Homo sapiens: one gene and its partners. The protein of the gene in region 1 interacts with the protein of each later gene in a pairwise test. Each region holds a gene or a part of one and is shown on either strand. Other genes may lie near its edges. The genes, in order: CRX, TCF7L2 and BANF2.

Region 1 (3,749 bases):
TTTACAAAAATTGGCCGGGCATGGTGGTGTGCGCCTGTAATCCCAGCTACTTGGGAGGCTGAGGCAGGAGAATCACTTGAACCTGGGAGGCAAAAGTTGCAAAGAGCCAAGATCGCGCCATTGCACTCCAGCCTGGGCAGGAGCGAAACTCCGTCTAAACTGTGTCTCGAAAGAAAAAAAAAGAAAAAGAAATAAGGCTTTGCAGGCCAGGTGCAGTGGCTCATGCCTGTAATCCCAGCACTTTGGGAGGCTGAGTCAGGCGGATTATTTGGACCCAAGAGTTTGAGACCAGCCTGGGCAACATAGGGAGACCCAATCTCTACAAAAAAAAAAATAATAATAATTTTTTCTATGTTTTGTATAATCCAGATCCTGCAAAATCTACAAAAACTTAAAAAAGTTAGCCAGGCATGGTGGCGTGCACCTGTAATCCTAGCTATTTGGGAGGCCAAGGCAAAAGGATCGCTTGAGCCCAGGAGTTCGAGGCTGTAGTGAGCTGTGATTGCACCATTGCACTTCAGAGTGGGCAACAGAGTGAGACCCTGTCTCAAAAATAAAATTAAAAAAAAAAAGTGCCCCCCGGGCCTAGGCACAATGGCTCACACCTGCAGTCCCAGCTACTCAGGAGGCTGAGGTGGGAGGATTGCTTGAGCCCAGGAGTTCGAGGCTGCAGTGAGCCGTGACCACCACCACTGCACTCCAGCCTGGGTGACAGAGTGTGAGACCTTGTCTCTGAAAAATAAATAAATAATAAAGTTTTGGTAACAGATGAAAATTCCTCTTGATTCCCCTTCCAGATTACATCCCCTCTTCCTCACCCCAAAAGGAACCTCTGTCCTGAATTTCTAGGACTGCTAATGTTTTTCTAAGTGACATACATTTCAGATGAACCCAGAGGGCTGGTGTATGGCCCTGAAGTCGCCCCTGTGATTGCCTTCTTCCTGGGGGCAAAGGGACCCCAGAGGTCCTCCAAGAGATGAGGCCAGCCTGGGGTGCCAAGAGAAACGACTGTACTCACTTGGGTAGGGCACAGCCTGGTGCATCAGATCCACACTGGGGCCACTTAGGGCCAAGGCGTTGACAGAATAGTGGGGCCCCGGGTTCATATACGCCATCATGATCTTCGGGGACACTGAGGCCCAAGTCAGGGGGCCTGCAAGAGAAGAGGAGGGATGCTCACTCACTTACCAGTTACTCACCATGGGGTGACGTGCAGGCTGCGATTCAAATCCTGCCTCCTTCTCCTCTTAGGTATGTGACCTTGGCCATTTATCTCACCTCTCTGTACCTCTGTGTCCTCACATGTAAAATGGCCTCTGCTTAAGGTTCTCAGAGCTTTCTTGAGACTCTGCAAAGCAGACAGCTGAAGCCATCATGTGCCTCATAAGTGCAAGCTCTTATTCCTACTCTACCCTCTAAAAATCTCGTCCTGGCTAGGCACAATGGCTCACATCTGTCATCCCAGCACTTTGGGAGGCCAAGGCGGGAGGATCACTTGAGCCCAGGAGTTTGAGACCAGCCTGAGCAACATAGCAAGACCCTGTCTCTTAAAAAAAAAAAAAAAGTGTTCTTTAAAAAGTTAACTGGGTGTGGTGATGCATGCCTGTAATCCCAGCTACCCAGGAGGCTGAGGTGGGAGGATCACTTGAGCCCAGGAGTTTGGGGCTGCAGTGAGCTGTGTTCAGGCCATTGCACTCCAGCCTGGGTGACACAGCAAGACTCTAAGAAAAAAACAAAACAAATCTGATCCTGTTACACACCCTCATCCAAGATCCCTTCTTTCTTGACCATGGGCAAACACGCTCAGCCTCACTTATAACCCAGGACTGCAGGTTGACCAACCGTCCCTCTTTGCCCAGGTTGGAGGAGAGGTGGGTGTTTCTTGGAACACAGGACTTTCAGTGCTAGAGCCAGAATGGTCCCAGGCAAACTGGATTGGTTGGTCACCCTAAGGGAGAGTGGCATTAAACCAACAGTAAGGGCCAGGCAAGGTGGCTCACGCCTGTAATCCCAGCACTTTGGGAGGCTGAGATGGATGGATCACCTAAGGTCAGAAGTTCAAGACCAGCCTGGCCAACATGGTGAAACCCCATCTCTATTAAAAATACAAAAATTAGCCAGGTGTGGTGGCGGGTGCCTGTAATCCCAGCTACTTGGGAGGCTGAGGCAGGAGAATCACTGGAACCCGGGAGGCAGAGGTTGCAGTGAGCCAAGATCGCACCACCGCACTCCAGCCTGGGCGACAGAGCGAGACTCTGTCTCAAAAACAAAACAAAACAAAACAAAAAAACAAAAACAAAAACAAACAAAAAAACGACAGTAAGGGCTAAGCAAGGCGGCTCACACCTGTAATCCCAGCACTTTGGGAGGTCAAGGCAGGAGAATCACTTGAGCCCAGAAGTTCAAAACCAGCCTAGGCAACATAGTGAGACCCCCATCTCTGAAAAAAAGAAAAAGAAATAGTGAGACCCCCCATCTCTGAAAAAAGAAAAAGAAATAGACCCCTATCTCAAAAAAAAAAAAAAAAAAAAAGCGAGTGTGGATCTTCCATGATCACTTTTGACCTATCAGGTTGGCAAAGATGAAGGAGGTTGATAACTTCCAGCACTGGTGTCAGTGTGGGGAAAGGCACACTCCCATGGCAGATAGGTAGCAGTACAGGTTGTAACAAACTGTTATTGAAGTAAAATGCCATCTTTCTTTTGTCCTAGTAATTCACCTTCAATGTATACCTCAGTCGCCTTGTTGGAAAATGGGAATGAAAATCGCATTTATGGGCCAGGCGCAGTGGCTCACACCTGTAATCCCAGCACTTTGGGAGACCAAGGCAGGCAGATCACTTGAGGTCAGGAGTTTGAGATTAGCCTGGTCAACATGGTGAAACCCCGTCTCTACTAAAAATACAAAAATTAGCTGGGCACAGGGGTGCACGCCTGTAGTCCCAGCTACTTGGGAGGCTGAGGCAGGAGAATCGCTTGAACCTGGGAGGCGGAGGCTGTAGTGAGCCAAAATGGTGCCACCACACCCCAGCCTGGGCTACGGACTCCGTCTCAAAAAAAAGAAAAGAAAAGAAAAAGAAAATAGCATTTATGTTCAGGTGGCAACATAGCGAAACTCTCCTGTCTCTACAAAAAATTAATTTTTTTTTTAAAGTAAGCCTGGGCGCAGTGGCTCATGCCTGTAATTTCAGCACTTTGGGAGGCCAAGGCAGGCAGATCACCAGAGGTCAGAAGTTCGAGACCAGCCTGGCCAACATGGTGAAACCCCGTCTCTGCAGAAAATACAAAAATTAGCCGGGCATGGTGGCGCGTGCCTGTAATCCCAGCTACTCGGGAGGCTGAGGCAGGAGAATCGCTTGAACCCGGGAGGCAGAAGTTGCAATGAGCCAAGATCAAGCCACTGCACTCCAGCTTGGGCGACAGAGCGAGACTCCGTCTCAAAAAAAAAAAAAAAAAACATAAGGCTGCTCTCTGAACTGATTTTAAAAGATCTCCATTATATAGTTTTAAAAAATTGTTCTAGGGGCCAGGTGTGGTGGCTCACATCTGCAATCCCAGCACTTTGGGAGGCCAAAGCAGGCGGATCACCTGAGGTCGGGAGTTCGAGACCAGCCTGGCCAACATGGTGAAACGTCTCAACTAAAATACAAAAATTATCCGGGCGTGGTGGCAGGCGCCTGTAATCCCAGCTACTCTGGAGGCTGAGGCAGGAGAATCGCTTGAGCCCGGGAGGCAGAGGTTGCAGTGAGC
Region 2 (3,749 bases), on another chromosome or scaffold:
CATAATGGCTTTTAAAGCAACTTTTGTTAATGCTACTGATCCTTAATGCAACTATTAATGTCCATTTGGTGACATCTGGGTTTCATACAGAAAAAAAAAAGTCAAAAAGGGGAAACAAAAATATATATACACATTTTATATATAAACTTAAAAACCTTGTACAAATGAGTTGTTATATATAAGATGCTTATGCTAAGGGGGAAAAAAACTTTATACAGTTTCAAGAAAAAGGAAAACATATTTAAAAAGGGACGACATACAGGTACGACAAGCAATCTCTAAAGCAATAAATACTACTGGCCCAACAGCGTTGTGATTCTATTAAGTGTTGAGTAGCGTCCCCTCCCCCCAAAAGAACAACACCATGGAACAAGGTATATTAACACATTTTTACCCTTTGTTTCTGTACATTTAAACAATAACAAGTAACATCACAATAAGAGTTGTTTCACACAGAAAAAAAAAAAAAAAGTAACGGCACTGCATTCATGGTGCCCTTACGGTTTAAAAACCAGATGTAAAATGATTGGTTCGCAAGCTCGTATTTAATACAAATAATACAGAACCAACTCCTTCTGGAGGGCTGCTTCAAAATTGCTTTTTTTTTCTTTTTGTTTTTTAATCAGTCTTTTAAAACTAAGCTATCCGAACTACATAACAGTTATGTATATATATATATTTTTTAAACGCTACAAAGACTTTAAACAGCTGTTGATAAAAATTTTGGTAGAATCATGAGGTTCTTCTCTCATCTACATATTTAAAAGGAGAAATTGAAATAAGAATGGGTCAAATATTGACCAATGAACTCGATAAACATCAACTAATGTAGCCACATGGCACAAAATTAAGAGAGTACAAAACAAAACCTTTCAAGGTGGGGGTGGGGGGCAAATTAAGAAAAGTGAAACAAAACCATAAACAAAGCAGCGGGGTTCACGACGCTAAAGCTATTCTAAAGACTTGGTGACGAGCGACAGCGGCTGGGGCTGGGTCCCGGCCAGGGAGCTGTGGGAATGTAAGGAAGAAGTCGACGGCTGTGCAATTGATGAGGAGGGGGCGGCAGGCTGCAAAGCGGCTGGGGGCAGGTCCAGGGCCCCGTTGGGACAGAGGGCGGAGGCCTTGTGGGTGGCCTCAGCGAGCAGGAGGGCGGGTGGCGGAGGCATCATGGACAGGTGGGCCAGGGGGTCGGGCTTCAGGGACAGCGACAGAGGCTGGGTCTGCTCAGTCTGTGACTTGGCGTCTCGGGGAGGGGAGCCTAGCAGGTTCGGGGAGGGGGGAGGCGAATCTAGTAAGCTTCCATCTGAAGAGGGTGGGCTGAGGCAGCTGCCTTCACCTTGTATGTAGCGAACGCACTTTTTTTTTCTCCTAGAAACAGGGGAGAGAGTTATCTGTGAATAGAGGGCACAGATGCCAAGGGAGAGAGTTACCTAATGCTCACACCCAAGCTGAGGTCACCTAAGGGATGTCCCACAGAGGTGGCACGCCCAGTGGTCCGAGGACAATTACAGTGGCGCCCCCCCAGGGTGGGTCGCTTACTTCACAGTGCCCAGATCTAAGCCTGCTCTGGCAAACAACTTATTTAAGAGTCTGAACTCTCTACTTGCTTCCCCCAACCCCTACTAAACACCCATGCCCCACCATGCCCAAATTATATACGAGAGCAGCATGGAGGCGGCCACCTGCAGATGGTGGCATCTATTTGCCAAAAAGTGGCTTTGTCCAAATTGAGAAGAACTGAAAAGCTCTTTTGGCTTAGACAGTCCCTCACTTTCCCATCAAGTTTCCTCGGCCCTTCACTCCCATTCCCACCACTACCACCCCCATCCCCCAGTGATGTGTGTGTGTGAGTGTGTGAGTGTGAGTGTGTGTGTGTTTAAAAGAGAAAGACAGAGCTCCTTCCCCAGCCGCCTCGTATCAATATGAAACTCTCAAAATGCTCACTGTTGAGCCCACATAGCTGAAGGCAGCGCTAGCAAGAGGCTTAAAGGTTTTAACACACCACCACCATGAGGCTGCTGGCGCCCAGAGAGCTTTCGGGCTTGTCTGTTAAGAACCACACCAAATCAAGAGAGGTCAGAATCAGGTGAGAAGGGAGGAAGGGAAACAAAAATAAAACAAAATAAACTTAAAACAAAAACAAAAAACAAAAAACGAAACAAAAAAAAGAAACCACCAAAAACAGGTAGAAGAGGATAAACAAAGGTGGGGGAGGGGGAAGAATAAGAAAAACAGAAAATGATTCAAAGGAACGAGAATAACTGGTTGTATGGCCTGCAGGTTGTGGATTAAATTAAGATTCAAACTTGATTTTTTTTTTTTTTTTAAGATTTGGGGCTTTCCCCTCCCCCACCCCGTAGTGAGAAGGTTGGAAGGAGAGATGGTGAGGATGGGATGGATGGAGGGGCATCCTGCTCTTGTCAATATGCCAAGGCTAGTCAATGGAGGGTGCAGCACAAGCCGGTCACCGAAGTGACTACAAAGAAGAAGTGCCAGGGAATCGCAGCATGGACCTTCCTGGGTTTGGGTTATCGTGATTCGTGTTTAAACCAGAAAGACTAATTTTGCCCTGCACCAAAACCAGCATCTCCCCTCTTCACTACTCATTCATGTAAGAAATAGGAATGAGAATTTCAGAGCCCTTCTTGCTTAGCATCAAAGGATGAGGTCGGGGAAAATCAACTCAAGAAATTGAGCATGTGACTTCAAAGCTTCTCCTCCCATTAATCCCAGTCTGATGGGATGGTATTTGGTAAGGAAAGGTGAGCCTGGGGATCAACCCCACTAATGCTATAAAAATAATGCAGATACAGGAAGTGTGCTCATCTAAGGACCCTAGAATATTGTCAGAACCATGGCTGATAACACTCCAACTGGAAACACGTGTGTAAGCACTGGCCAGCTTTCTGCCGCTGGAAGCAACCAAGATGCTGCCTGCTTGAAGGCAACCACTGTCAGACAATGTCACTGGCCTTGGAAAGGAAGGGTGTGCTGAGTTCCTCCTCTCAGTCTGTGCCCCAGAGCTGTCTGATCATGCCCCTCTGTGCTTGGGGTTTGGACTCAGCAAGATGGCAGGAAGGCAGGGAAGGAGGGGAGGGGTGTAAGGGAGCATGCTCAGTCCTCCCTGCCTCCCAGAGGCTGAGATTCATGGGGGCTAGTGGCCTCAGGGTCTGTCTGTTCCTTCTGGGTCAGAAGGAACTCTAGGGGAGCAAGCACCACCCCCTCTCACCCTCAATTTGGCAAGGTTCCTTTTTCTCCCTGGGAGAGAGTAAATAGACTATGGGTTCTGCTTCCATCCCAGAAACCAAGATAAATAATTAAGCCTCTCAGAGTTTTAAACCACCTTAGCCTGCAGATCAAAACATGCTCAAAAAACTAAGATGTCCATGCATTTTAAAAATGGGAGAAGGAAAGGAGGTGGGGAGGGGGAGGGCATAAGCAAAACTGAGAAAGCAACAGAGAAAAACAGAGAGAGGAAAGGAAAGGGAGAAAGAAAGAAGCAGGGAGAACAACCAGGAAGACAAGGGAACAGCACCAAGCAGCATTCCATGCTATATTAGGGCAGAGTGAAAAGATGGGAAAAGCAACTTGGTGGGCTCAAAACAGAATCTTGTTAAAATGTCCACAAATGTCAAATGAAACTAGAAACCTTGTGTGGCAAGCTAGAAGCCCTGATTGGCTAGGAGCATTCTGGTACCTTCCTCACCCCTCCCACCCTCATGACGTGGAAGTTTCCAGATCATAGGAAT
Region 3 (3,749 bases), on another chromosome or scaffold:
GCTGAGGCAGGAGAATAGCTTGAACGCAGGAGGCAGTGGTTGCAGTGAGCCAAGATCATGCCATTGCACTCCAGCCTGGGCAACAAGAGCGAAACTTCATCACAAAAACAAAACAAAACAAAAAACTGGAAGATGGCAACCCTCATTTAACAAAATGGCCGGTTTTGCTGGGATGCAGACCTAATGCTTATGGAACCCATGATATTTCGAGATCTTCCAGGAAATATTCAGGATGTTAGCTACCTCTGGCAGTCTTCATTAAGGTCCTAGGAGACTCAACTCCTGGGAGATGGTGGTCCATTTAAAAGTGGAGAGGGATGAAAATAGTTTTGCTAAGACAGAGAGTCTTTTTGCCTGGGGCCTGCAATCTAAAGTTGCAGGAAATTGATGAGCAAGTCCTGCTGTTTGGGAAAGCTGATTTATCTGGCTAAAGTTAGAGCACAGGCAACAAATGAGGTGACTTAAGCAAAAGCCACCTTCTCTTCCTTCTTTTGAGGTGGAGTTGGTGAGGCCAAAGAGTGCTGGAGCAGCCCTTTCACCACCATGAGGGGAGCCAAGCAAGAATAAAGCCAACACAAGGAGGGAAAGCTGGACAATCCCTGAGGAATGGCGCTGCGACCCATTCCCACCTGCAGGCTTTGGATTTCTATAATGTGTTCTTTACAATTTGAGCCAGTTTGAAGAGTTTCTAGAGAGTTTACACTATTATACAGTGTGATGAACACTGAAATAAAAGTATGACTAAAGTGTTGGGTGGTTAAGAGAGAAGGTGGGTTAATTAGCTAAGAGAAGTAAGTTGTTGCTTTAGGCATTTAGAATGGGGTGAGTTGGAAAGAACCCACTGCAGTTCTTAATATTAAGCACACTCTTTTCGTGGAAATTTATTTGACTCATCTGTGGCCATCATTCGGCTTCTGTTTGTCCATCCAGGTAGGAATGGATGTGTGAAGGCCTTAGTGGAGGCCAGTGCACCTGCATTTAGTAGACCCCGGGAAATGCTGGATGATGGAAGGAATTCTGCCATCTGTTGCCCCAGTCCCTTGGTGGGCTGAGGGAGTTCCCCAGTGTCCATGCACACTGGGAGAAGTCAGGTATCTGCTAATCCTCCTCTCTCCCCACTGCTGTCGCAGGAGATGGACAACATGTCTCCCAGGCTGAGAGCCTTCCTCTCCGAACCCATTGGAGAAAAGGATGTCTGCTGGGTGGATGGCATCAGCCATGAGCTCGCGATCAATTTGGTCACCAAAGGTATCAATAAGGTAATTCATATTTTCTTACTTCTCTGACTTCTCTTCCCTACCTTTCTTCCCCCAGTCCTGCCAGATGGCAGTTCCTGCCACGTGTCCCTGTGAAGGGCCATCAGAGAGCAAAGCTGCCGCTTGGCGGGGTGCCACATGCTTTCGTGCTATTGACCCCACATGCTCAGGCAGCCTCAAGGGCCTGCAGATGATGGGCACATACACATAGAATGGCTTCAGTTCAGAGCAGCTGGGCTAGGCATGATTCACTTGGTGTTCAAACACTCAGGGATCAACAGAAGTAGGTCAGCCGCCGGGGTCTGAGATGAGCTGTCAGGATGGATGATTTAGGTGCACTCCATGCCCCCATGAAGGGACTCATGGCATCTCGCTTGCCCCTGCCAGGGCACCAGCCTGGCAATGGGCAGGTGAAGAAACAGGAGCCTGGGGTCTACACTAGAGTGAGTTATTCTATGATGTCACTCTCAGCCCAAGAATGACCTCAAGGATATCCAGTGGAATTGGAATATTCTTTTCTACGTCATTGTTTGTTTTTATGGGGCTTTTAAAAAGCTGCTTAGGGCCTCAGGAGAGGATGAGACAGTCCCAAAGACAACGCAAAGAGAGTGAGCACAGACAAGGCAGGCTGTGAACTCACAGAACATGGCACGCCCGGTCAGGAGAGGCACCAGCTAGAGCTGTTGCTCTTCATTCTCCTCAGTGCCCCAAGTCAGTCTACCAGGCGGGACAGTGTTACAGAAACACCCAAAGAGGCTGGGAACTGCTGCACACATGGCTGACGACTAGTTTGGTTTGCATCTACATCTGAACCATGAGAGCCATGGTTTTCTGATTACCCCATTGCTCTGCACTAGCTGGTAAATACTCAGAATAACACCCCAATCTGTGAGCCAGTTTAATGTCCAGTAGATGGTATCATCAGAAATGGAAGTGCCCCTATTGGGTAGATTGGATTCTTTCCTGCCAGACGAAGGAGGGAGAACCATTCTCTGGGGAACAAATTTTAAATGAAAAAATTTTTGTACTTTTATTATTTATTTATTTATTTATTTGAGACAGGGTCTCACTCTGTTGCACAGGCTGGAGTGCAGTGATGCCATCTCGGCTCACTGCAACCTCTGCCTCCCAGGCTCAAGCGATCCTCTCACCTCACCCTCCCATGTAGCTGGGACTACAGGTGTGTGCCACCATGCCTGGTTAATTTTTTGTGTTTCTTGTAGAGACAGGGTTTTGGCATGTTGCTCAGGATGGTCTCGAACTCCTGGACTCAAGTGATTCAACATACCTCGGCCTCCCAAAGTGCTAAGATTATAGGTGCAAGCCATCACACCTGATGAAAAATTCCTTTTTTAAAAAAAGAAATCATTCTTCTTTTTACTTTCCTATTGTGATGTAACATACCGAGGAGAATATGTGTTGATATAAAGGAATTCACAGATCAATGAATTTTTACACACATATGTACACCTATGTACCCACTACCCAGATCCAGCAATCAGATGTCTCCAAAATTCCAAATGGTTCTCTTGTGCCTCTTCTTGGCCAAGGCTATCCCCTATCCTTAGAGGTAACCACTCTTCTGATGTCAAACAGCATTGATTAAATGTGTCCATAATTGTGGGGTTTTGTGGTTGTTGTTCAGCTATACTCATTATTTTAAAAATGTTTTTATTAAGGTATAATTGACATACATACATTAAATTTCACCCTTTTTAGTACATAGTTCTATGAGTTTGGACACATGCATGCAGTGATGCAGCCGCTACCATAGTCAAGACACAGAGCAATCCCATTACTCAAAATATTCATTTCCTTGTGCTCTTCATATTCACCAGCCTCAGTCCCTGGCAACCACTGATTTATTTTCTGTAGTGTTGCCTTTTCCAGTTTAAGTCTGTGTGTGTGAATAGCTTAACTGTGTTTTAAATGAGGATTATAGGTGGGTGGGTTTTAGAACAAAAAATGAATGAATAATGGAAAAATGTTAGGCATCTGAAAACTTGCCTGTCGAGTCAGGGCTGTGGGGACGGTTTGTCTGTGTGCAGCCGGGTCCCTGGAGATGTGCTCCTCTTGTGTCCATGACCTCCTGGCCAGTGCAGTGAGCACTTTCCTAGAGCTGCTAATTTTAGGCACTGGCACTGGGGCTGTCACCTGTATCCTTCGCTTTGAGCCGCCCACACCCGTGATTGAGATGAGGGTCACTCTCTCCACTTTACCAGTGAGGAGACAAGGGCTCCGAGGAGCAGTGCCTTGTCCGCTCCCAGGTGAACTGGAGCAGCCGTGGATTGTACTGTCACAAATTGCACAAGAAGATCTGTGGCCAGGCGGTTATGCCCGGCAGGGAGGAGGCTTAGACTAAATTTGGGGGTGAGAGCCTGTATCAGGGTCTGGAGTCCGGCTGGGCCTGTAGTGAGACCCAGGAGGAGACCCAGATGCGGCCCCTCCGAGATGGGCAAGCGCTTCAAGGTGAGGACCCATCTGAAGTCAGGG

The links.
Region 2: the proteins of CRX (region 1) and TCF7L2 interact in binary tests that used the Homo sapiens proteins (3 or more experiments, as listed by UniProt).
Region 3: the proteins of CRX (region 1) and BANF2 interact in binary tests that used the Homo sapiens proteins (3 or more experiments, as listed by UniProt).

What each region holds. Positions count from the first base shown.
Region 1 is NC_000019.10:47,831,813-47,835,561, reverse strand, and holds part of CRX (cone-rod homeobox protein), read right to left. Parts: intron 1,154-3,749; 5' UTR 1,119-1,153; coding exon 1,019-1,118; intron 1-1,018. UniProt on the Homo sapiens protein: Transcription factor that binds and transactivates the sequence 5'-TAATC[CA]-3' which is found upstream of several photoreceptor-specific genes, including the opsin genes.
Region 2 is NC_000010.11:113,163,174-113,166,922, reverse strand, and holds part of TCF7L2 (transcription factor 7-like 2), read right to left. Parts: intron 1,369-3,749; coding exon 951-1,368; 3' UTR 1-950. UniProt on the Homo sapiens protein: Participates in the Wnt signaling pathway and modulates MYC expression by binding to its promoter in a sequence-specific manner. Acts as a repressor in the absence of CTNNB1, and as activator in its presence.
Region 3 is NC_000020.11:17,723,893-17,727,641, forward strand, and holds part of BANF2 (barrier-to-autointegration factor-like protein), read left to right. Parts: intron 1-1,130; coding exon of another isoform or gene 1,131-1,133; coding exon 1,134-1,259; intron 1,260-3,749. UniProt on the Homo sapiens protein: May play a role in BANF1 regulation and influence tissue-specific roles of BANF1.